Homo sapiens: one gene and its partners. The protein of the gene in region 1 purifies or fractionates together with the protein of each later gene. This does not show direct contact. Each region holds a gene or a part of one and is shown in the gene's direction. Other genes may lie near its edges.

What was found.
Region 2: the proteins of VAPB (region 1) and PRKACB purify together in Homo sapiens (affinity purification with mass spectrometry; 4 studies listed by BioGRID and IntAct, with this or other methods). This does not show direct contact.
Region 3: the proteins of VAPB (region 1) and TACC1 purify together in Homo sapiens (affinity purification with mass spectrometry; 5 studies listed by BioGRID and IntAct, with this or other methods). This does not show direct contact.
Region 4: the proteins of VAPB (region 1) and PITPNM1 purify together in Homo sapiens (affinity purification with mass spectrometry; 7 studies listed by BioGRID and IntAct, with this or other methods). This does not show direct contact.
Region 5: the proteins of VAPB (region 1) and ACBD5 purify together in Homo sapiens (affinity purification with mass spectrometry; 6 studies listed by BioGRID and IntAct, with this or other methods). This does not show direct contact.
Region 6: the proteins of VAPB (region 1) and WDR44 purify together in Homo sapiens (affinity purification with mass spectrometry; 6 studies listed by BioGRID and IntAct, with this or other methods). This does not show direct contact.
Region 7: the proteins of VAPB (region 1) and MIGA2 purify together in Homo sapiens (affinity purification with mass spectrometry; 5 studies listed by BioGRID and IntAct, with this or other methods). This does not show direct contact.

What each region holds. Positions count from the first base shown.
Region 1 is NC_000020.11:58,395,729-58,399,228, forward strand, and holds part of VAPB (vesicle-associated membrane protein-associated protein B/C), read left to right. Parts: intron 1-3,500. UniProt on the Homo sapiens protein: Endoplasmic reticulum (ER)-anchored protein that mediates the formation of contact sites between the ER and endosomes via interaction with FFAT motif-containing proteins such as STARD3 or WDR44.
Region 2 is NC_000001.11:84,147,271-84,150,770, forward strand, and holds part of PRKACB (cAMP-dependent protein kinase catalytic subunit beta), read left to right. Parts: intron 1-3,500. UniProt on the Homo sapiens protein: Mediates cAMP-dependent signaling triggered by receptor binding to GPCRs.
Region 3 is NC_000008.11:38,846,236-38,849,735, forward strand, and holds part of TACC1 (transforming acidic coiled-coil-containing protein 1), read left to right. Parts: intron 1-463; coding exon 464-584; intron 585-1,719; coding exon 1,720-1,788; 3' UTR 1,789-3,500. UniProt on the Homo sapiens protein: Involved in transcription regulation induced by nuclear receptors, including in T3 thyroid hormone and all-trans retinoic acid pathways. Might promote the nuclear localization of the receptors.
Region 4 is NC_000011.10:67,498,864-67,502,363, reverse strand, and holds part of PITPNM1 (membrane-associated phosphatidylinositol transfer protein 1), read left to right. Parts: coding exon 1-72; intron 73-277; coding exon 278-502; intron 503-1,139; exon of another isoform or gene 1,140-1,206; coding exon of another isoform or gene 1,207-1,261; intron 1,262-1,942; coding exon 1,943-2,269; intron 2,270-2,354; coding exon 2,355-2,450; intron 2,451-2,533; coding exon 2,534-2,641; intron 2,642-3,362; coding exon 3,363-3,424; intron 3,425-3,500. UniProt on the Homo sapiens protein: Catalyzes the transfer of phosphatidylinositol (PI) between membranes. Binds PI, phosphatidylcholine (PC) and phosphatidic acid (PA) with the binding affinity order of PI > PA > PC. Regulates RHOA activity, and plays a role in cytoskeleton remodeling.
Region 5 is NC_000010.11:27,234,298-27,237,797, reverse strand, and holds part of ACBD5 (acyl-CoA-binding domain-containing protein 5), read left to right. Parts: intron 1-2,585; coding exon 2,586-2,706; intron 2,707-3,500. UniProt on the Homo sapiens protein: Acyl-CoA binding protein which acts as the peroxisome receptor for pexophagy but is dispensable for aggrephagy and nonselective autophagy. Binds medium- and long-chain acyl-CoA esters.
Region 6 is NC_000023.11:118,349,106-118,352,605, forward strand, and holds part of WDR44 (WD repeat-containing protein 44), read left to right. Parts: intron 1-3,500. UniProt on the Homo sapiens protein: Downstream effector for Rab11 which regulates Rab11 intracellular membrane trafficking functions such as endocytic recycling, intracellular ciliogenesis and protein export.
Region 7 is NC_000009.12:129,043,126-129,046,625, forward strand, and holds part of MIGA2 (mitoguardin 2), read left to right. Parts: intron 1-3,500. UniProt on the Homo sapiens protein: Regulator of mitochondrial fusion: acts by forming homo- and heterodimers at the mitochondrial outer membrane and facilitating the formation of PLD6/MitoPLD dimers. May act by regulating phospholipid metabolism via PLD6/MitoPLD.

The sequences.
Region 1 (3,500 bases):
TCAGGCTGTTATCAGCATAGCATATCCAGGATTGCTTTGGCCTTGCTCAGTGGGTATGTGCGTTCTTTGAAGTTCTTACCTGACAGATGTGGGCAGCTGGCTTTACACAAGGAAGAGTTGTTTAAAGAGCTTTGGTATGGAAACAAAGTTACTAAACTTGACAGTCACTTGAGGATTATTTAAAAAACAAACAAAATAACTGAATGTGGTAAAATACTATCTCTAGAATATTTTTCAAACTGTTAAATGCATCCTTTTAACAGAAGCTGTTGATGTCTACAAACACTGTCTTTGTAGACAAAGACAAACCCCCCTTGCATGGGGGTTTGGGGGTTGGGAAGCAGTTGAGAAAATGGCATAGTCCCGTGAGAAAACCTTGGAATACTTTCTTTTAATAACATTTTTTTATTGCATAGAACTGTAAAGCTACAGAAATGCTTTCTTGGAGTTTTCCTTCATCCTTTCAGAAGGGCTAATATTGACCTTTGGTTAGCATGTTAGTATTTTCACCTGTGTCAAGTGATGTCTTCACGCTTTTGGGGGGTGTGTGTGTGCATGCCCACCTCGTGTTGTGTAGGGCACATTGGCCGATACCTATAATGTGTTTCAATTACTACATTGTTGGCATTTCAGTAGGCTCCTTCAGCCTTTGCCCATCTGGGAAGTGGAGACTAGGGCAATAAATGTTTTAGGGGTAGATTGAGACTGCAGTGTTTTTCATCTTTTAGCTTGTACTTTAAGACAATGGGATGTACCCCTAGACCATTTACCTAGATTTAAATTACTTCCTTGTGATGTGGTTTAGAGCTCTAAGTTCCTTGAGTTGTCTTGAAAGGCTGAAGGGTGCTCAGAGAATGGAGGGGAATTGAAAATGGAACCTAAGGATCTGGGAGTGGTCATATGTGTGAGTGGTGAAATGTGCCCCCCAACACCCCGTTGGGTCGGGTCTGGAGTTAAAAGCAGTGGCTGACATACATTTTGCAATATAAGGGTAAAGAAAGGTAAAGAAGGAACAAACATTTCTAGAGGATAAATGCTTTAATTCCAGAAGATAGGCCACACAGTTTAGGAACTGTGGTAAGAGGTGCTTTGCCATATTTATGTTACTGTTTAATCTGTGTAACAATCGTATGAGATGACTTAGTCAGTGGCTAGGTAACTTTCTGCTGGATGAGGCTGCACTAGTAAATGGTGGCACAGGCAAAGCCTTGTACTTTCCCTCATACCAGTATCAGCTCATTAGAGTTAACTCATAAAGGGGTTTGTTCTTGAGAGAGGGAGGCAGAGAATTTAAAACCATTAATGAAGTATTAATAGCTGTCAGGACAATTTCTTAAGAACATCAATTCATTAAGAGTTATTCTCTGAATTTTTTAGGAGGGATTTCTTGCCCTACTTTTGAAAAAGTTCAGACAGATGACTCCAAAGAATGTTTGATTTCTCTTGTGAATATTCACTTTTATATCAGATTCTGATGGTTTCTTGATTCTATATATTTAGAAAGCATTCGGCCGGGCATGGTGGCTCATGCCTGTAATCCCAGCACGTTGGGAGGCTGAGGCAGGCAGATCAACTGAGGTCAGGAGTTCGAGACCAGCCTGACCAACATGGAGAAACCCCATCTCTACTAAAAATACAAAATTAGCCGGGCATGGTAGCGCATGCCTGTAATCCCAGCTACTTGGGAGGCTGAGGCAGGAGAATCGCTTGAACCTGGAAGACGGAGGTTGCGGTGAGCCGAGATCCCGCCATCGCACTCCAGCCTGGGCAACAAGAGCAAAACTCTGTCTCAAAAAAAAAAAAAAACAAAACACATTAACTTGTGGGTAATTTGTCCTTCTGCTATCCAGTCTTTGGAAGGCAGGGCAAAGCTTGTGTGTGGTAGAGATTTCATAGGCTTGCAGGTTTGTAGAGTGGGAATTCAAGAAGTTGTAAAGGGCACTTATTAAGATAGGAATGTCTAAAATAAATGATCTTTAGCAGTGCCACCTTAAACTTTGTAAGTGTTGCTACAAAACCTTTAGTTCTGCATGCTCCTGACCAGCCATTGCCTTGGACAGAGAAACAAATAAGGGTGAGTTAATAAACTAGAGACTTGTCTCAATTGTTCAAAGAGGTAAACTTAAGGTGATTAAAAAGTGCTGTTTTATTCTGTATGAGATACACTTTGGGAAGTCGTCATTTTCCAAGACGATGATACGCCAGGCATACGAATTGGATCAGAAAGGATTTAGAGACATGCATGGATATAATGATCTCTTACAGATGTTCCTCACCTTACAGCGGAGTTACATCCTCAGAAACCCATTGTCAGTTGAAAATATTATAAGTTGAAAACATATTAGATACAGCTTAACCTACCCAACATCATAGCCTTGTCTACCTTAAACATACTCAGAACCCTTAAGTTAGCCTCCAGTTGCACAAAGTCATCTAGCACAAAGCCTATTGTATGATAAAGTATTGAATATCTCATGTACTGCATATTACTAGCCTGGGAAGAGATCAAAATTCAAAATATGTCAAAATTATGATGGCTTCACACCATTGTAAAATTGAAAAATCGCAAGTCAAACCAATCGGGGATTGTCTGTACATAAGAGATGATTGTCCAAATTAGAGCTGTTTTGGGTTTCTGCCCTTTGCAGATCCTTTGAGGTTTTCTTTATAGACAGATGACTCCTTCTGGGGGAATTGAGCGTGACTCTGATTGAGATTTGGTTCAGTTACCACATACTGAAAGCTTCCTGTGGGCCAGGCACTAGGTTGCACTGGGGACCTGGGAGGAAGGCCTAGCCCTTAAAGTTTCCAGCCTCTAGGTATTGGGAGACGAGGGAAAATGGGGACAAGATATTTATGGCCTGTCCTTATTGAGAGCTTAGAAAAAGCTGTGTTAATTCTGCTTTGGGTGTTCGATCTCACAGGGAAGATGGCATTTGAGATATGTGACTTGGCGAGCTTACACTGTGCGCTTGCCATTTTTCTAAGCGTTCATTTATTTAATTCTTAATGCAAGCCTAGGAAGTGGGTACAGTTATGATCCTGAAGTTATTAACCCAAGTTATGAACCTGACTGAGGGTTGGAGCTGGGATTTGAATCAAGATCTGTCTGATTGCAAAGGCTATGGCTTTTTTTTTTTTTGTCGTCATGCTGGCTGTGTTTCTTCCCTTAAAAGATAAGTGGGAGTGTGCCCTTGGCTTTCTTATTTATTATGTTAGGAAGATGAGAGGAGGAGTGAGACTAGAGAAAGAGGCTTGAAAGAGAAATGGGATAGAAAAATAAAGGAAAAGGCTGGGCACAGTGGCTCACACCTGTAATCCCAGCACTTTGGGAGTCTGAGGTGGGTGGATCACCTGAGGTCAGGAGTTCGAGACCAGCGTGACCAACATAGTGAAACCCCATCTCTACTAAAAATACAAAAGTTAGCCGGGCGTGGTGGTGCATGCCTGTAATCCAGGTACTGGGGAGGCTGAGGCAGGAGAACCGCTTCAGCTGGGGA
Region 2 (3,500 bases), on another chromosome or scaffold:
TGTCCTCTAGCAAAATCATAAAGTGGTTACAGTAGACCACTTCAGTCAGTTTTACCTTTGCAAATTTTATACAATCTCTCAGACAGTTTACCTCCTATTTGTTAGCCCATTGAATCTGTATCATTTTAACTTCTCAGCTAAAAGACTTTCCACCTTTGTCTTTTTATCAGCTTTTTCCACTTGAAACTATTCCATAAGCTTCTTGATAATAGTCAATTTCTACTCATTTGGTAAAACTTTTTTGAGTATTTACTATATCATAGTAAGTAAGCAAGTTTCCAGGAAAAATAAGATCTAGTTCTTACCCCCAAAAAGAAGAGCAAACATAATATAATATTCAAGGCATAATGAAATAGTTGCTTTAAAATGTCTAAGCTTACTGTGGAAGCTAAGTGTAAGAAAAAAGTTGTTACTAAAGAGAAAATGGGGGACTTCAAAAATATTAAAGAATGAATAGAATTTTGAGACCTAGAGAAGAAGGTTATTTTAAGAAAATAACATACACAAGTATTTGAAAATATGAACATTTAGAACTTACTTAAAAGGTTTAGTAAGATACTGTCTAGAAAATTAGGTTCTGGATTTAAACTTTAAAAGTTTTCTATTAGACATCCAGAATTTTGTACTACGCTGTATTAGTGGGGAGCCAATGCAGTTTTTTAAAGTGGAAAATAATATAATGCAACCTTTGTTAAAAGAGCCTAAAGATTTTAACTAGCATAATACAGGATAAGTTAACTTACTTTACTACAGAGAAATGTGTATAGCTACTATACATCTTCCGTTTTTGCTGGGCATTTAATTAGAACTAACGCTTTTGACGTGACAGTCAGCATGGCAATGAATAGTCAGATAATGGATTCCTTTTACAACAGTGCTTGTTCAAGTTGCTGCTTCTGTCTGGAATTCTCTTTCTTCACTTCTACCAGTGGTGAGATTTGCCCATACTTTAGGCATCCTCTCAGGTATCATCTCTGTAACAAAACCACCAATGTATCCTATTCATCTATCCTTCATCCTTCTTAGAGTCTGTGCTCTTCCTTATGTTCTTATATCATCTTATACTTAACTTTTATTGTGGTTTATTTATAGTATTTATATGGTATAGTTTGTATACTATATATATTATAGTTTATAATATTTAAAATGCATTACTATTAATCCTTATGTATCTGTCTCTCATGTTTGATTTTGAACTCCTTGAAGGCAAATAACTTGTCAGTTTATTTCAGTATTACTAGCATAATTTTCAATAAATCTTGAGTTATTTGTTAAATTAACATTAAACATCACTGCAGTATTACACAAATGAGCTTCTTACTAATTTGTGCTATTGTGATCTTTGCAATTTATTTTAAAAGCCCATGGCCATTAACCAAAAGCAGTCAAATGCTGACCTGGCTCTAGTAAATACCAATTTTCAGTGTTACCTGTGTATTTTTATCATGATTTCCAATAAAAATTTAAGTAACAAGCAGACTTTATAGTAAAACTAAAATAGTTGGGATATTAAATGATGTTGAAATCAGGAAATCATTCCATGAGCCATTTAGCAATGCAAGTACTATATCAACTGTACTAACATAACGAGAAGCTTTTACTTGCTTGTGCTTTGCAAAAATAGCCATATGACAGAGTTAGAAGACAGCTTGCTACTCAAAGTGTGGTCCCTGTCCAGCATTATTAGCATCTCCTGGGAGCTTGTTAGGAGGAAGAATCCCAGGTCCCACCTAGACCTACTTAGTCAGAATCAGCATTTTAACAAGATTTCCCAGCTGATTTATATGCACATTAAGGTGTGAGAAGCACTTTTTCCCTAATAACATTTTAATATGATTTCCAAATGTATATCTTCACTGGAGAAAATTTTGAAACTACAGGAAAAAACAAAAAGGTAAAAAAAAGTATACATAATTCTGCCAAAAGGTAATGACTGTTAATTTTTGTATATATACTCTATTTTGTGTATAGACACACAAATTTCTACCAGCTCCAATTTTTTTTTTTTAAACAGAGTCTTACCGTGTCACCCAGGCTGGAGTGCAGTGGTGGGATTTCGACTCGCTGCAGCCTCTGCCTCCCAGGCTCAAGCGATCCTCCCATCTCAGTTTCCCAAGTAGCTGGGACTATAGGCATGTGCCACCATACCCGGCTAATTTTTTGTATTTTTGGTAGAGGTGGAGTTTCACCATGTTGCCCAGGTCGATCTTGAACTCCTGAACTCAAGTGATCTGCCTGCCTTGGCCTCCCAAAGTGCTGGGAATACAGGCCTGAGCCACTGCACCCAGCCCAGCTCCAGAATTTGGATCTTTCAAAACATAATGTTTAGTTAACATTTTTCTTTATAAAGAGTTGTTCTACAATACTATTTTGTATTAAATCATAAGGATATACTATAATTTATTTAACCAATCATTGGCCATCTAGGCTGTTTTTAATGTTTTGCTATTAAAAAATGCCATGATAAACATCTTTATAACTAAATATTTGTACATATTTAGGATTATTTTTATATTTTATAGGATTAATTTGAAGAAGTTATGACCATTTTAAGGCTTTTGCATTAAATTAATTGAATCCCAGATAAACATGCATATCTTTTTGGAGTTAATTATTATAATAATTATTTTTTCATAGATTATAGCACTTGAGAATGTGTGAAAATAATTATATAGCTACTATCCTTAATGATATTTTTAAAAACAAATTTAAGGCCAGGTGTGGTGGCTCACGCCTGTAATCCCAGCACTTTGGGAGGCTGAGGTGGGCAGATCCCTTGCAGTCAGGAGTTCAACAACAGCCTGGCCAACATGGTGAAACCCTGTCTCTACTAAAAATGCAAAAATTAGCCAGGCTCCATCTACAGGTGTGGTGGCGCACACCTGTAATCCCAGCTACTTGGGAGGCTGAGGCAGGAGAATCACTAGACCCCAGGAAGCAGAGGCTGCAGTGAGGTGAGATTGCACCACTGCAGTCCAGCCTGGGTGACAGAGTGAGACTCTATCTCAAAATAAATTAAAATAAAATAAAATAAAGAAAACACATTTAACATTGTAAAATTTATTCTCAAAACAGTATATTGATATTTTTAAAAATTAAAAATATAATGGCCCATTATACTTCCTTCTGTTACAACTACCAGGGTCATGGTAAGAACATTATATGTTTGTCCCCTCCAAATCTCATGTTGGAATGTGATCCCCAGTGTTGGAGGTGGGGCCTAATGGGAGGCGTTTGGGTCATGGGGGAGGATCTCTCATGAATGGCTTGGTGTCCTCCCAATGGGTAATGAGCTGGTTCTTGCTTTATTAGTTCATGCAATAACTGGTTGTTTTTTTAAAACAAACATGGCACTTCCCCCTCTCTCTTGCTCCCTCTCTTTGCCTGTGACATGCCTGCTCCCTCTTTGCCTTCTGCCATCATTGAAAGCTTCCTGAGGCCCTCATCAGAAGCAGATGTTGGCAGTATGCTTCTTCTACAGTCTGCAGAACCATGAGCCA
Region 3 (3,500 bases), on another chromosome or scaffold:
ACTGCGCCACTGTACTCCAGCCTGGGTGACAGAGCGAGACTCCATCTCAAAAAAAAAAAAAAAAAAAAAAAAAAAGAATGCCTTTCACATCTCATTAATAAACTCATTCCCTGTAGGCCCGTGTCTCACAGATGTCAGTGGTTAGTATCCCAACTCTAGCTGTGATCGTCTCCAAAATTATGCAGTCTGCTTTTGTACTGGTCTAAAAAAAAAAAAAAAATCTAAGACTGTTATAGAAACCATTTGCTAGTGAGATACAAATTTTGAAGTTGTCTGTAAATTGAATTTTTATAAATTAAAATGGAATTATTTAGGTCACCGATTTTTGTTTTTTTTCTCTCATGCAGTCAATTCTTTGAGGCCTGTGCCTCACAGATGTCAGTGGTTAGTATCCTGACTGGCTTTGACTAGTGGCTAATCATGTGCTTTTTGTCTCTTTATTACACCCAAACACCATAAACAGAGCCAATGAAGAGATTGCTCAGGTTCGAACAAAAGCAAAGGCTGAGAGTGCAGCTCTCCATGCTGGACTCCGCAAAGAGCAGATGAAGGTGGAGTCCCTGGAAAGGGCCCTGCAGCAGAAGGTACAGAAAGGGACCTGATCTGGGTGGCCACAGAGACGTTTGGTTTTCCTCCTCAGCAGTGACTCACTTAATGACAGATCTGGGTGAAAGAGGCCTTGGCTTTCTACTCAGACATTTCAGTCCAGCTCCTTTCTGAACTGATCCAGGTGGAAACAAACAAGTCAAACCATTAAATTTTCAAGCACATCATGTGGAAATCATCCACAGGCAGGGTGCAGAGAGGAAGTTGCATTTTAACTGAAGTTCAGAACAGCTTCCTAGTTGGGGTCATGAGACTGCCTTTCTTTCTTTCTTTGTTTTTTATGCAATATATTAATATGAAGCCATCTTCCCCCTTCATTGCTTTAGATCAGTGGTTTGCAGTTGGGGGCAGTTTTGCCCTCCAGGGGATGTTAGGTGTTAGGTAATGTCTGGAGATATATTTGTTTGGTTGTCACCACTGGGAGATGCTGCTGGTATCTAGTGCAGGAAGCCAGGGATGCTGTTAAACATCCTACAATGCACAGGACAGCCTCTGACAACACATTTACCCATCCTAAAACATCAGCAGGGCTGCTTTGAGAAACTGCTATAGATAAATGAAAACCAGGACTAGCAACAATCCCTGTTTCTCACTAAGCAATTTTTAGCTTTCCGTTTTTATATGTCTCCGGTGTATTTTCTTTACTGCATTTCCAATTATGTACTCATACCTGTGCCATCCATTCATCAAGAGCAGGAGTTTTTATCACAGGGTCTGTTAGCCCCTAGAACGGTGCTCCCTGGGAGATTCAGACTCCAGCATCCCTAGATATGCTAATGGATTGAGTGAGACCCAGATACTTATGTTTTTGACAAGTACCCCAGATAATTCCTCTGATAACAAGAAAATTGGGGAACTAAGAGATTCATGGACAAGTTTCAGAGGGCTGGTGACTGTCCTCACCCTTTACTCAATTTAAGCATGATTTTATGAGTACATTTTTTGAGGTGTGTAGCCTTTTTTTCTTTAAAGCATCTCTGATGTAGAAAAGTTAAAAATCACTGAATTAGGATGTCTAGGGTAGGGTAGATCCAGACTTGGGACTAGTTAACTCTATTTGCCTTTATTTCAGAATACAAAGTGGCCTGCATAATTATGTCATTTGTCTTTCAGAACCAAGAAATTGAAGAACTGACAAAAATCTGTGATGAGCTGATTGCAAAGCTGGGAAAGACTGACTGAGACACTCCCCCTGTTAGCTCAACAGATCTGCATTTGGCTGCTTCTCTTGTGACCACAATTATCTTGCCTTATCCAGGAATAATTGCCCCTTTGCAGAGAAAAAAAAAAACTTAAAAAAAGCACATGCCTACTGCTGCCTGTCCCGCTTTGCTGCCAATGCAACAGCCCTGGAAGAAACCCTAGAGGGTTGCATAGTCTAGAAAGGAGTGTGACCTGACAGTGCTGGAGCCTCCTAGTTTCCCCCTATGAAGGTTCCCTTAGGCTGCTGAGTTTGGGTTTGTGATTTATCTTTAGTTTGTTTTAAAGTCATCTTTACTTTCCCAAATGTGTTAAATTTGTAACTCCTCTTTGGGGTCTTCTCCACCACCTGTCTGATTTTTTTGTGATCTGTTTAATCTTTTAATTTTTTAGTATCAGTGGTTTTATTTAAGGAGACAGTTTGGCCTATTGTTACTTCCAATTTATAATCAAGAAGGGGCTCTGGATCCCCTTTTAAATTACACACACTCTCACACACATACATGTATGTTTATAGATGCTGCTGCTCTTTTCCCTGAAGCATAGTCAAGTAAGAACTGCTCTACAGAAGGACATATTTCCTTGGATGTGAGACCCTATTTTGAAATAGAGTCCTGACTCAGAACACCAACTTAAGAATTTGGGGGATTAAAGATGTGAAGACCACAGTCTTGGGTTTTCATATCTGGAGAAGACTATTTGCCATGACGTTTTGTTGCCCTGGTATTTGGACACTCCTCAGCTTTAATGGGTGTGGCCCCTTTAGGGTTAGTCCTCAGACTAATGATAGTGTCTGCTTTCTGCATGAACGGCAATATGGGACTCCCTCCAAGCTAGGGTTTGGCAAGTCTGCCCTAGAGTCATTTACTCTCCTCTGCCTCCATTTGTTAATACAGAATCAACATTTAGTCTTCATTATCTTTTTTTTTTTTTTTGAGACAGAGTTTCGATCTATTTTAAGTATGTGAAGAAAATCTACTTGTAAAAGGCTCAGATCTTAATTAAAAGGTAATTGTAGCACATTACCAATTATAAGGTGAAGAAATGTTTTTTTCCCAAGTGTGATGCATTGTTCTTCAGATGTTGAAAAGAAAGCAAAAAATACCTTCTAACTTAAGACAGAATTTTTAACAAAATGAGCAGTAAAAGTCACATGAACCACTCCAAAAATCAGTGCATTTTGCATATTTTTAAACAAAGACAGCTTGTTGAATACTGAGAAGAGGAGTGCAAGGAGAAGGTCTGTACTAACAAAGCCAAATTCCTCAAGCTCTTACTGGACTCAGTTCAGAGTGGTGGGCCATTAACCCCAACATGGAATTTTTCCATATAAATCTCAATGAATTCCCTTTCATTTGAATAGGCAAACCCAAATCCATGCAAGTGTTTTAAAGCACTGTCCTGTCTTAATCTTACATGCTGAAAGTCTTCATGGTGATATGCACTATATTCAGTATACGTATGTTTTCCTACTTCTCTTGTAAAACTGTTGCATGATCCAACTTCAGCAATGAATTGTGCCTAGTGGAGAACCTCTATAGATCTTAAAAAATGAATTATTCTTTAGCAGTGTATTACTCACATGGGTGCAATCTTTAGCCCCAGGGAGGTCAATAATGTCTTTTAAAGCCAGAAGTCACATTTTACCAATATGCATTTATCATAATTGGTGCTTAGGCTGTATATTCAAGCCT
Region 4 (3,500 bases), on another chromosome or scaffold:
ACCTGCCTGATGGGGGGCAGCAGCCAAACGTCTTCAACCTGAGCGGGGCCGAGAGGAGACAGCGCATCCTGGGTGAGGCCTGGAGCTATGGGGGGACCCTGGCGCCCCTCTCAGGCTCCTGGCTGCCTCAGTGGGCAGCCTCTGAGAAGTCCCAGCCCTCTCCAGGCCTCATGTCCTGTCTGCAAAAGGACGGGAACTGTCATCCAGTCCCAAGAGGGTGCCAGGAGCGGGGGCTCAAAGGGGCTGGCGCTGCTCAATGCTTGCCGAACTCCCTCAGACACCATCGACATCGTGCGGGATGCAGTGGCCCCAGGCGAGTACAAAGCAGAAGAGGACCCCCGGCTTTATCACTCGGTCAAGACGGGCCGAGGGCCACTGTCTGATGACTGGGCACGGACGGCGGCACAGACGGGGCCCCTTATGTGTGCCTATAAGCTGTGCAAGGTTGAGTTCCGCTACTGGGGCATGCAAGCCAAGATCGAGCAGTTCATCCATGATGTAGGTGAGCACCCAGCTGCGGGAGGTCCCACTTACCCAGCATGCCCCAGACCCCATGTTTAGGGCCAGGGATGCTCCCATCCACTGGGGACACAGAAGCAGAAAGCCATCGTTTCCATTTGAGGTGGGGAGCACTAGGGCAGAAGCGGCCGCACAGCCTAGCCAGGCATCCACAGAGCAGGAAGCTGGTAACATGATCTACAAGGTCCATACTGGCTCTGACATTCAGAAATGCTGCTGCTTCCATTAAGATTCTAAGATTCTCCATCATCCTATGAGTTAGATGAGACTTAGAGACACTCAGGAAGGTCACCGGCTCTAACTGGCAGCATGCTAAGGAGTGCAGGCTGAGGCTGTGACTCTGATGTCATTCTCTCTGGGATTCCCCACCTCCACTCCCAGTTTCTAGTGTTCCAGCCTTTGGCCCTGGTGTTCAGGAGCCCCAGTCCCACACCTCCCCTCAACCTGACCCCACCACGCCTACAATTCAGCCCTGCCTCAGTGCCCAGGTCATCTGCACACAGAGGGATGGTCCCTAGTTGGAGAGACCAGCGGCCTGGCTTCTGTCCCACTACTGACCCCCACCCCATGGTACCTCCAGCAAGGCACTGGCCATCTCTGCACTTTAAATTTCTCTTCAGTAAATGAGGAAGAGGTTGAGTCAGATATGAAGAGCTAATACTGACAGTGATTGCGACACACAGACCCATGGCTAATTACTTTTTGTGCAAGATCTCCCTTAACACCCACAACACCCCACCAGGTAATGACGATGATTATTCCCATTTTACAGGTGAGGAAATTCAGCTTAGAGAATAATGAGGACGCCTTGTCTTGCATTTGGAAAAATGCCAAAAAGCACAAATAAGAAAAATATAGCCACTACTAAGATTCCAATATATCTCCTCGCAGAAGTTTATAATTATCATTCAACCATCATTACTTTATTTCCTAGACATTTAAGAGTTTCTAACTTTTTCTTCTGCTTAAGATAAAAATATCCCAGAATGGGTATCATCTTTCGCTACAACCTTCATTGAGTGCCAACACTTCCATTAACTGTTAACACCTTCATTAACCATCAACAATTTCATTAACTGTTAAACCCTTAATTAACTGTTAATTCCTCAGAAGTCAGCAGGAAGCCAGCCAAAAGCAAGAACAAGCATTGGTCCCTGCTTCTGGAGTGATGGGGTGGGGACAGTGCTGAGAGTTAGGGTGTGCAGAGAGACAGGAAAGGCAGTGGGCGGGGGGGAGTCAGGCAGGAAGACAAATGCCCCACTTTCCACTCCCATTCCTGGACTGCACTGGCCCTGCCCTACTTTGTGGCTCTGGGTGGGTGGTGTCCCCAGGGGAGCCATTATCCAACCTCAAGGCTGGGCATGTAGCTGCGGTGGCAGGGAAGCAGGGGGAGGGGGCAGTTCTGACGCCTGGGCACCTGCAGGTCTGCGTCGGGTGATGCTGCGGGCCCACCGCCAGGCCTGGTGCTGGCAGGATGAGTGGACAGAGCTGAGCATGGCTGACATCCGGGCACTGGAAGAGGAGACTGCTCGCATGCTGGCCCAGCGCATGGCCAAGTGCAACACAGGCAGTGAGGGGTCCGAGGCCCAGCCCCCCGGGAAACCGAGCACCGAGGCCCGGTCTGCGGCCAGCAACACTGGCACCCCCGATGGGCCTGAGGCCCCCCCAGGCCCAGATGCCTCCCCCGATGCCAGCTTTGGGAAGCAGTGGTCCTCATCCTCCCGTTCCTCCTACTCATCCCAACATGGAGGTGAGGCTGGGGCACAGGGATGGGAGGAACGGCCCTCCCCAGGCTGGGCTCCTGGGCTGAGGCTGAGGCTGAGCTGGCCCGGCAGGGGCTGTGTCTCCCCAGAGCTTGTCTGAGTGGCGCATGCAGAACATTGCCCGAGACTCTGAGAACAGCTCCGAGGAAGAGTTCTTTGATGCCCACGGTCAGCACTGAGGCCCTTTTTGGGAGTGGGGATGTCCCCGAGCAGCTCCTCCCACCCCATGACACAGCCCCCTGTCCCCTCAGAAGGCTTCTCGGACAGTGAGGAGGTCTTCCCCAAGGAGATGACCAAGTGGAACTCCAATGACTTCATTGATGCCTTTGCCTCCCCAGTGGAGGCAGAGGGAACGCCAGGTAAAGATACCGCCTAGGACACCGGCCCCCAGCACCCGTGTACAGCAGGTCATGAGTTTAATGGCATCTTAAGATGAGAGGCAATCTGAAGAGGTGCTCATTAAATACATAGACGAATAATGAATGGTGGATGGATGGATGGATGGATGGATGGATGGATGGGTGGATGGATGGATGATTAGAATGTAGTCATGATTCAGACATAGCACTAAGAATGAAGGAATTAATTTGGACTCCCTGAATGCTTCACTTGAGAGGTGATGTCTATGCTGGCTTTGGAGGACTTGGGCCAGCACTGTCCAGCAGAACTTCTAGGTCCATGCTGCCCAAGGCAATAACCACCAGCCACACTGGCTCCCAGGCACTGAAAATGGGGTTAGTGTGACTGAGGAACTGAGGTTTTTATGTATTATATTTTAATTCATTTAAATTTAAATGGCCACTTGTAGCTAATGGCCACCACATTGGACAGGGCAGGGTTAGAGAAGTTTGCCAGGCAAACAGGCATTGTGTGGAGAGGCAGCCCTGACTGCAATAAGACCAGTAGGAGCAAAGGCCTGGAAATACAAACTGACCTGGGAGAGTTGGTGGGAGGAGAAGTTTGGAGGAAGGTAGGGACTGGGGGCCTCAGGCAGATGCCAGAACTGGGGTGCCTGAAGTGCCAGATGAGGGGATCCCAGTGGTCCTCTCCGTCCCTCTCACTGGCTTCGTTGCCCTGCAGAGCCTGGAGCCGAGGCAGCTAAAGGCATTGAGGATGGGGCCCAAGCACCCAGGGACTCAGAGGCGAGTATGGTCAGCCACCCCATGTCAAAGCTCCCCCTACTCACTGGCCCGGCCACTGCTGTGACACCCACTGCAC
Region 5 (3,500 bases), on another chromosome or scaffold:
AATACAAAAATTAGCTGAGTGTAGTGGCGAGTTCCTGTAATCCCAGCTACTCGGGAGGTTGAGGCAGGAAAATCGCTTGAACTCGGGAGGCGGAGGTTGCAGTCAGCTGAGATTGCGCCATTGTACTCCAGCCTGGGTGACAAGAGCCAGACTCCAACTCAAAAAAAAAAAAAAAAGATATCCTATCAAATGGTACTTGTGTTGGACAACATCCAGTATACTGTTATCCCCTGAAACTAAGTTGATATTAATTGAAGCAGAAGTTTGTTATAATGGATTATAAATATTTTTGTAATACTACTTTTAAACCATTTGATTTGCTCTGAATCATTATGCAAAGAGCAAGATCTTGGAGTTTTTTGTTCCTTGTTTCTCAATCCTTATTTAAGGCCTGAAATAGTAATGAATCCTATGACATCTATGTTTGGTATGACCTTAACCTTTTAAAATTAAAATTCTTAGCTAATATTTCAAATACATATGAAGTACATCATGTGTGAGCACCTTGAGGACAGAAATCTTACTTGAGTGTCTTACACACAGACTACACTCAATAAATGTTCTCGGTTTTTGTATTTTTAATATCATTCACCTAAGCCAATAAACATATTTGGTTGACTTACTGAAGATATTTTGAGATTAGACTTTTGATGTTTTAAATTTAGATTTGTGTTATTTAAATAAGTGACCATTTTAAACTGTGGTTTCTCCATTTTTTTCCCTCTGCTTTATAAAGGATTGTATCATTAGAACACTATCTATTAGGTACTCCTAAATGTGCATATATTATACAGATAATTATTATAGTGATTTGAGAATTAATTATGCACTCTCGGCCAAACCTGAAACACTAGTTCTCAGTTTATCTCTGTGGTAATTTCCACAGCACAGCTTTTTTTTTTTTTTTTTTTTTGAGACCAAGTCTTGCTCAGCTGCCCAGGCTGTAGTGCAGTGGTGTGATCTTGGCTCACTGCAACCACCGTCTTCCAGGTTCAAGCAATTCTGTCTCAGCCTCCTGAGTAGCTGGGATTACATGCACCCACCGTCATGCCCGGCTAATTTTTGTATTTTAGTAGAGACGGGGTTTCATCATGTTGGCCAGGCTGGTCTTAAACTCCTGACCTCCGGTGATCCGCCTGCCTCGGCCTCCCAAAGTGCTAGGATTACAGGTGTGAGCCACTGTGCCCGGCCCACAGCTCTTATAAACTGCTAGCTTATGCAATTTACAAATTTTAAAAAATATCTTGTTACAATTGTTATTTTTAAAATTTTGTTATAAAGGTAATATACACTGATGTTTAAAACTTTTTTAAAAACACATAAGTGAAAAGGAAAATAATTTGTATACTTACTATTCAGAGATAGTCTTTAAACATTTTATGTTTATCTTTCTACTGTACTTTTTATGTATATAAATATTTTGCCAAAAGGTATCATATTACATATGTTGTTTTTAAACTTATTTTTCTAAATTTATAGTAGATCATGGAACTTATACCATTATTTATATTTTTCTACAATATAACTTTTTAGGGCTACAGTTATAAATTGTCCTGTTATATTTATATATCATAATTATTTAAACAGCTATTATAAAACATTAACATTCCAATTTTTCAGTTATTGAGAATACTGCAACTTATAGCACTTGCTTATACAATTTGATTTTTTTTTTTTTTTTTTTGAGACAGGGTCTTTCTCTGTCACCGAGGCTGTAGTGCAGTGGTGTGATCACAGCTCACTGCATCCTTGACCTCCCCAGGCTCAGGAGATCCTCTCTGCTTAGGCTCCTGAGTAGCTGGGACTACAGGGTGTGCCATCACACCCAGCTAATTTTTGTTTTTATTTGTAGAGACAGGGTTTTGCTATGTTGCCCAGGCTGGCCTTGAACTCCTGGGGTCAGGTGATCCACCCACCTCAGCCTCACAAAGTGCTGGGATTACAGACATGAGCCACCACAACTGGCCAATTTAAAAATTTTAAACATGAGAAAAACTATAGATATGCTAGAAACATATATGAAGAATTATCCTCAAATTGATGTCTCCAAAATTACAGAGGTAGGAAGTGAGAAATCTATTTTATCTTAGATTAATTCTTTTTCTACCATAGTGTATACTCTTTGGCTTTAGCCCCAAATTCCTTATCTACTGAGAATTTGAAATTTGGCAGAGTATACATATAACTTTTTCACTTACACTAGTCAGTTTTGATTTGTCATAAGCTTTGAATAAAAGTACCTTATTACGATTGCTTAATAATAGTTATTCTATATTTTAGTATGTTTTTAAAGAGACATTTGCAGGTTATTTTGGTTATATCTACAGCATGTCTATTCATGTATTCTTTTATTTATTGAACCATCTTAGGCATTGCTATTAAAGTTTAAAATCTCAGAGTGTTTTGAAATCAAAGAAGCAAGCAACTAACAGAACCATAACTTTTGTTTCTATAAGCTAGAAATAAATCATTATCTAAAGTATTAATGCAATATAAAATCACTATTAGTATAGCTAAGCTAATTTATAACCTGATTATCAGTTGTATTCCCCAGGTGATTTGTATTTAATGTGTGTTTCCAACAGGTTCATTCCAGCCAACAAATGAAATGATGCTTAAATTTTATAGCTTCTATAAGCAGGCAACTGAAGGACCCTGTAAACTTTCAAGGCCTGGATTTTGGGATCCTATTGGAAGATATAAATGGTAATTTTTTGTGTAGAGCTATGCAAGAATTTAAATTTTAATGACATAATTATCATATGGCTATTACTTAAGTGGTTATATATTATTCTGTGCAGAAAGTGTCCTAGGTATTGGGTACAATTTTTATCCTCCAGGTTTTCTTTTTTGTTTGTTTGTTTTTGAGATGGAGTCTCACTCTGTTGCCCAGGCTGGAGTGCAGTGGCAGGATCTCGGCTCACTGCAGCCTCTGCCTCCTGGGTTCAAGTGATTCTCCTGCCTCATCTTCCTGAGTAGGTGGGATTACAGGTGCGCGCCACCACACCCAGCTAATTTTTGTATTTTTAGTAGAGACAGGGTTTCACTATGTTGGCCACGCTGGTCTCGAACTGCTGGGTTCAGGTGGTCCGCCCACCTCGGCCTCCCGAAGTGCTGGGATTACAGGCGTGAGCCACCATGCCCAGCCTTCCCAGGTGCTCTTAGTACAATTTTACACAAATAGGAAAATCTTGGGGAGGAGAGGAAAACAGTAAAACCAAAAGGGATAGGTGCATCAAAGATAAAGAAGCATTATCAGTTAATCTTTACTTTCATGGAGTTTTCCCTTTTTTTTTTTTTTTTTTTAAGGCAAGAGCAACTCCCAACCTAAGTTAAATAAACAAACTTTTAACTGCCTCTTTTGCCTGCAAGAAAAATAATGGCTTTTCCTTGTTTGTACTGAGCCTTGAAGATAATAAATAACTAGGAATATGACTCAGGTACTGCCATGCTAACTTTTTATCTAAGCTGTCACTTCTGACCTACTGTAATTGAATAGA
Region 6 (3,500 bases), on another chromosome or scaffold:
TTTAGAGACTTTTAATTCCAGTACAGCCTACTTTTCTACAGTGGCAGATGATCTTCACTTGCCCAGCTTTGCAATATATGCCGTATTTATAATGCTTTTTTATTGATATTTTAGGTCAGGTTTTCTTTATTTTCTTTTTTCTTTTCTTTTTTTTTTTTTCCAAGATAGGGTCTCACTCTGTTGCCCAGGCTGGAGAGGTGGTGAGATCATGGCTCACTGCAGCATCAAACTCCTAAGCTCAAGTTATCTTCCCACAGGTGCATACCACCCTGCTCAGCTAAAGGTTTTTTTAGAGATGGGGTCTTGCTATGTTGCCCAGGCTGGTCTCAAACTCCTGGCTTCAAGTGATCCTCCCACCTCAGTCTCCCAGGGCGCTGGGATTACTGTCAGGCATGAGCCATCTCGCCAGGCCCAGGTTTTCTCATTTTTATCTTCATTTTTACATATGAGGAACATTTTTTTTTTTTTTTGAGATGGAGTCTCGCTCTGTCGCCCAGGCTGGAGTGCAGTGGCACGATCTCTGCTCACTGCAACCTTCGCCTCCCGGGTTCAAGAGAGTCTCCTGCCTCAGCCTCCTGAGTAGCTGGGACTACAGGTGTGCGCCACCACGCCCAGCTAATTTTTAGGAGAGACGGGGTTTCACCATGTTCGTCAGGCTGGTCTTGAACTCCTAACCTCATGGTCCGCCCGCCTCGGCCTCCCACAGTGCTGGGATTACAGGCGTGAGCCACCGCACCTGGCCTAGGAACCTTAGACTCAGAGACGGTTAAGTGAATTTGTCCTAGGAGAGAGCTTTTAAGTGGCAGAACTGGGATTTGAAACCAGCTCTTCAGACTCCTAGTCCAGTATTTTTTTTTTTTTTTCCTGTGGAGGGCGATGAGAGCAGTGACAGAGAGGTGGACAGAGATCCTCCCCTGGTAAATTCTGGAGTAAAATGCTTTAGGACCAAGTTGCTGAATTGAACTGATACATCTCCATTAAAACCAGCAGCCTAAACTTTTTTGTTCTCTTGGCAAGAAATTCCACTTTCTTTCAGCAACGTGTATTTTTGTTTTGTCAGATAGGAATTTTGCAAGATCATAGCCTGTTGCAGCTAGAAGGGACATCTAGTTAAACTCCTTCGTGTAAAATGTTGTGAAAACTGAAACCTAGAGAGAGAAAGCAACTTGTAAAAGCTGCCACAGCAAATTAATGGTGGAGCTAGGTCTAGAACCCGGATCAGTTTGACTGTCTGGCGTTCTTTCTGCTACTGGGCTGTCTTTTGATAGAGCAGGAAAGAGAAGAGGAATCGTGTGGTACACTAGAAAAGAGCCCTGCACTGTGAGTCATTTTATTTCCTCATCTTTAAATTGAGGGGATTACACTCTTGAGAACCCTTCCAACTCTAAATGTCTTTATATTGAGGTTTAATAGTGTGCTTGTATTGATAAGCTTTTGTTCTTGGTAAATCTTTCGTGATTTTTTTTAATCTTTTCGTTTAACTTAATGGTATTTGGTACATAGTTCAAGACCCATAAATTTGAAATTAAGTATTTACTGGGTAAATTATATATGAGATGAATGCCCCTGCTAACTCATGTGGTTTATACTTACACATACTAAAGGCTGGCACTGAGAACATGTTGTAAAAATAAATGTAACATTTTCAGCACTCTTTTTTTTAGTGGCAGCCAAAATATTTTTGAGGCCTTGGAAGAAGGATAGAATCATAACATTTTTAGAGTAGGAAGGGACTGGAGATCATTTTAGCCCAGCCTTCCCTTTTAACTGAAAGTGAAATTTAGGGTCTGAGAGGGGAAGTGACACATTGCTAATAAGGGCAGACTTGGAACTAGAGCCCAGGTCTCTTGATTCCTCACTTATACCATGCTACCATGTCTGCGGAAGAAGGGAAAGTATTGCTGGCTATTCCTGCCATAGGTTTCTGGCACTTACCCTATTAGCTGGGCTTTTAAGATGGTTTACTTGACTGTTTCTTCATACCTTGCCTATCAGAGGTCTTGAACTATTTTAGAATCCTAAGTTTTGCTTACGAGTTTTTTCCAAGTGAAAGTGAAAAACAATGGCAAAATAGCTTGTCTAAGAACAGTGATTATTTGTATTATTTTATTCTTAGGCATTTAGTTAGTATTAACTGCAATCTACCATATTCAGATAGGAATAATGATAAAATCTTAAGTCATGGGAACTGAGACCAAACTGTCCTGAATAATTGTTAGGTCTGAAAAACAAAAAGGTGTGTAGCTGCCTTTGTTGAAAACTCAGCTTCTCACTTTACTTAGGTGTCAGAAACATTTCTCTCTGAATTGAAAATTGATACAAGTTTTAATTTAAAAAATACCTGTGCAATATTTATTACTTTAGGGAAGTTTCCTTAAAAATGGCTGTTTGTTGATGAGTTGACATTTGATCACAAATTTGATTACTGAAGGCTTTAAGGAGTGATAGAAGTATATTTACAAATGCTGTTTTATCGCACTCATGTAACATCATATTGAAGTGAGAAAAAACAACCCTCTACATATTAGTTAGTAAATTCAAGTTCTAAATTTAGTGACATCCGGCCGGGCACCATGACTCACGCCTGTAATCTCAGCAGTTTGGGAGGCTGAGGCGGGTGGATCACCTGAGGTCAGGAGTTCGAGACCAGCCTGGCCAACGTGGTCAAACCCCATCTCTACTAAAAATACAAAAATTAGCCGAGCATGGTAGCACACACCCAGCTACTTGGGAGGCTGAGGCAGGAGAATCGCTTGAACCCGGGAGGCGGAGGTTACAGTGAGCTGTGGTCATGCCACTGCACTCCAGCCTGGGCAACAGAGCAAGACTCCGTCTCAAAAATAAATAAATAAACAATTTATATTTAGTGACATCTGACTGTCAGTTGGTAACTCATGGGGGTAGGATAGTCCATAGTGGCATGGCAATTTGGGGGCTCAAGTTGAATCTGTATAAACTCCTGTAAATTGGAAACTGTATTCTCTTCTTGTGATAATCTACTTCATAAGATAGGACAGATAAAATTTGTGTTGTTTGTTTTTTGTTTTTTGTTTTTTTTTTTGAGACAGGGTCTCACTCTGTCACCCAGGCTAGAGTGCAATGGTGCAATCTCAGCTCACTGCAGCCTCGACCTCCCCAGGCTCAGGTGATCCTCCCACCTCAGCCTCCCAAGTAGCTGGGACCACATATGTGCACCACCACGCCCAGCTAATTTATATATATATATATATATATATATATATATATATTTTTTTTTTTTTTTTTTTTTGTAGAGATGGGGTTTCACCATGTTGCCCAGGCTAGTCTCAAACTCCTGGGCTCAACTGATCCACCCAACCTCGACCTCCCAAAGTGCTGAGATTACAGGTATGCACCACTGCACCTGTCCCTTGATTTTAAAAAATATTAAAAACCTAAATAGTTTTAGGATGTGAAGTATAGTGGTGGTCTTAAACAGAAAATAATTTCTAATTATTGGTATTTTAGACTTACTGTCTAAC
Region 7 (3,500 bases), on another chromosome or scaffold:
GGAGCTTGCAGTGAGCCGAGATTGCGCCACTGCACTCCAGCCTGGGTGACAGAGCGAGACTCCGTCTCAAAAAAAAAAAAAATTTGAGGGTTAATTTGCATGCAGTAAGATTCGTACTTTTTAGCATACTATTCTGTGTCTTTGACACATAGAGTCATCCGACCACCACCATAGTTAGGAATCATTCAGCTGGTTGGAAGGTAGTGAGTTCACTCAGTCGATTGCTCACAGTCACAGATCACACTCCTTCTGTTCTCTCTTTTTTTTTTTTTTTTTTTTGAGATGGAGTCTTGCTCTGTCACCCAGTCTGCAGGGCAGTGGCACAATCTCGGTTCATTGCAGCCTCGGCCTCTTAGGTTCAAGAGATTCTCCTGCTTCAGCCTCTCGAAAAGCTGGGACTACAGGCACGTGCCACCATGCCTGGCTAATTTTTGTATTTTTAGTAGAGACGGGATTTCGCCACGTTGGCCAGGCTGCTCTCGAACTCCTGAGCTCAAGTGATCCGCCCACCTCAGCCTCCCAAAATCCTGGGATTACAGGTGTGAGCCACCGCACCCGGCCCCGGCCATCTTTCTACTCTTTTTTTTTTTTGAGACGGAGTCTCACTCTCTGTCACCCGGGCTGGAGTGCTGTGGCATGATCTTGGCTCACTGCAACCTCTGCATCCCGGGTTCAAGCGATTCTTCTGCCTCAGCCTCCGGAGTAGCTGGGACAACAGGTGCGTGCCACCAAGCCCGGCTAATTTTTTGTATTTTTAGTAGAGACAGGGTTTCACTGTATTAGCCAGGATGGCCTTGATCTCCTGAACTCGTGATCCGCCTGCCTCGGCCTCCCAAAGTGCTGGGATTACAGGCATGAGCCAACCTGCCCGGCTTTTTTTTTTTTGAGACAGAGTTTCGCTTGTGTTTCCCAGGCTGGAGTGCGGTGGTCTGGTCTCTGCTCACTGTAGCCTCTGCCTTCCGGTTTCAAGCAATTCTCCTGCCTGAGCCTCCCGAGTAGCTGGGATTACAGGTGCATGAAACCACGCCCGGCTAATTTTTGTATTTTGAGTAGAGTTGGGGTTTCACCATGTTAGCCAGGCTGGTCTCGAACTCCTGACCTCGTGATCCACCCGCCTTGGCCTCCCAAAGTGCTGGGAGCCAGGCATGAGCCACCGTGCCTGGCCCCTTCTTCTACTCTTTTTCCCAGCTTCTCACTACTACACTTAACTAGTCTTAAAAAAAAAAAAGAACTGTTCTATCGTTGTATCACTCTCTAAATGCCCTGTGTCCTTCTGTGTCAGCTCTGGTAGCCACTGCTCTATTTTGTGGCTGCTGCTGTGGTTGTAAAAACTCTTACGGCTCCTGTTAATCTTGTAATACAGACCCGGTGTTTGCTGCATTGAAGTGTTGTCTTGATCTCTTTGCAAGGCCAGGAGTTCTCATCTTGGGAGACTTGTTTTTTTTGAAACACAGTCTCACTCTGTCACCCAGGCTGGAGTGCAATGGCACAGTCTCGGCTCACTGCAACCTCCACCCCCTGGGTTTAAGCGATTCTCCTGCCTCAGCCTCCCGAGTAGCTGGAATTACAGGCATGAGCCACCACACCCAGCTAATTTCTGTATTTTTGGTAGGGATGGGGTTTCACCATGTTGGCCAGGCTGGTCTGTGTTGGCCAGGCTGGTCTGTGTTGGCCAGGCTGGTCTCAAACTCCTGGCCTCAAGAGATCTTCCCGCCTTGGCCCCCCAAAGTGCTGGGGTTATGGGTGTGAGCCGCCGTGCCCAGCTGAAACTTGTTTTAAGAAGCAAAAGTAAGGCCAGGCGCGGTGGCTCATGCTTATAATCCCAGCACTTTGGGAGGCTAAAGCAGGCGGATCCCGAGGTCAGGAGTTTGAGACCAGCCTGGCCAACACGGTGAAACCCTGTCTCTACTAAAAATACAAAAATTAGTCGGGTGTGGTGGCAGGCATCTATGGAGGTGGAGCTTGCAGTGAGCCGAGATTGTGCCACTGCACTCCAACCTGGGCGACAGAGCGAGACTCTATCTCAAAAAAAAAAAAAAAACGAAGCAAAAGTAGCCTGTGATTTCAGCACTTTGAGAGGCTGAGGTGGGCGGGTCACCTGAGGACAGCAGTTCCAGACCAGCCTGGCCAACATGGTGAAACCCCCTCTCTACTAAAAATACAAAAATTAGCCAAGCATGGGGGTGCATGCCTGTAATCCCAGCTATTTAGGAGGCTGAAGCAGAAGGATCGCTTGAACCCGGGAGGCAGAGGTTGCAGTGAGCCGAGATCACACCACTGCACTCCAGCCTGGGCTATGGAGTAAGACTCTGTCTCAAAAAAAAAAAAAAAAAAAAAAAAAAGCAAAAGTAGACCGGGTGTGGTGGCTCACACCTGTAATCCCAGCACTTTGGGAAGCCAAGTCGGGAGAATTATTGAGTCCAGGAGTTTGAGACCAGCCTGAGCAGCATAGAGAGACCCTGTCTCTATAAATAATTTTTTTTTAAAAAGAGAAAGAACATAAATTAGCTGAGTGTGGTGGCTCATACCTGTAATCCCAGCAATTTGGGAGGCAGGAGGATTGTTTGAGGCCAGGAATTCAAGACCAGCCTGGGCAACATAGAGAGTCGCTGTCTCTGTTAAAAAAATAAGAAGCAAAAGTCTCCTGTGAAAATAAATTTTAATTGTGTATTATTGTTGCAAAAGGAAAGTATTATCTTTAGAATTGGAAAAATAAGTGTTTTGTTTTTTTTTTTTTGGTTTTTTTTTAGACGGAGTCTTGCTCTGTCGCCAGGCTGGAGTGCAGTGGTGCCATCTTGGCTCACTGCAACCTCCGCCTCCCGGGTTCAAGCAATTCTCCTGCCTCAGCCTCCTGAGTAGCTGGGACTACAGGTGCGTGCCACCACGCCCAGCTAATTTTTTGTGTTTTTAGTAGAGACAGGGTTTCACCATATTGGCCAGGATGGTCTCCATCTCTTGACCTCCTGATTTGCCCGCCTCAGCCTCCCAAATTGCTGGGATTACAGGTGTGAGCCACTGCGCCCGGCCTAGAATTGGAACAAGAAGTCTTGAGACTAATATGGAAGAGGACCCTGAGAGACACTCAGGCAGCCTAATTTTGTGTCTGTCCTGGGAAACCTGGAGTCATCTGCACAGCGTTTAGCTTCTGTGCCCTGTCCCACTCTGCCTGCTCTCATTTCACCTTATTTTCCCTTCCCTACTTTTCTCACTTCTAACAAAATATTGGCCATGTATAGTGGCTTGTACCTGTAATCCCAGTACTTTGGGGCAGGTGGATCACTTGAGCCCAGGAGTTTGAGACCAGCCTGGGTGGTATGTGGAGGCCCTGTCTCTGTTTTTTTTTTTTTTTGGAGACAGAGTCTTGCCCTGTCGCCTAGGGCAGAGGGCAGTGGCACAATCTTGGCTCACTGCAACCTCCGCCTTCCAGATTCAAGCAGTTCTCATGCTTCAGCCTCCCGAGTAGCTGGGAGTGCTACCATGCCTGGCTAATTTTATGTTTT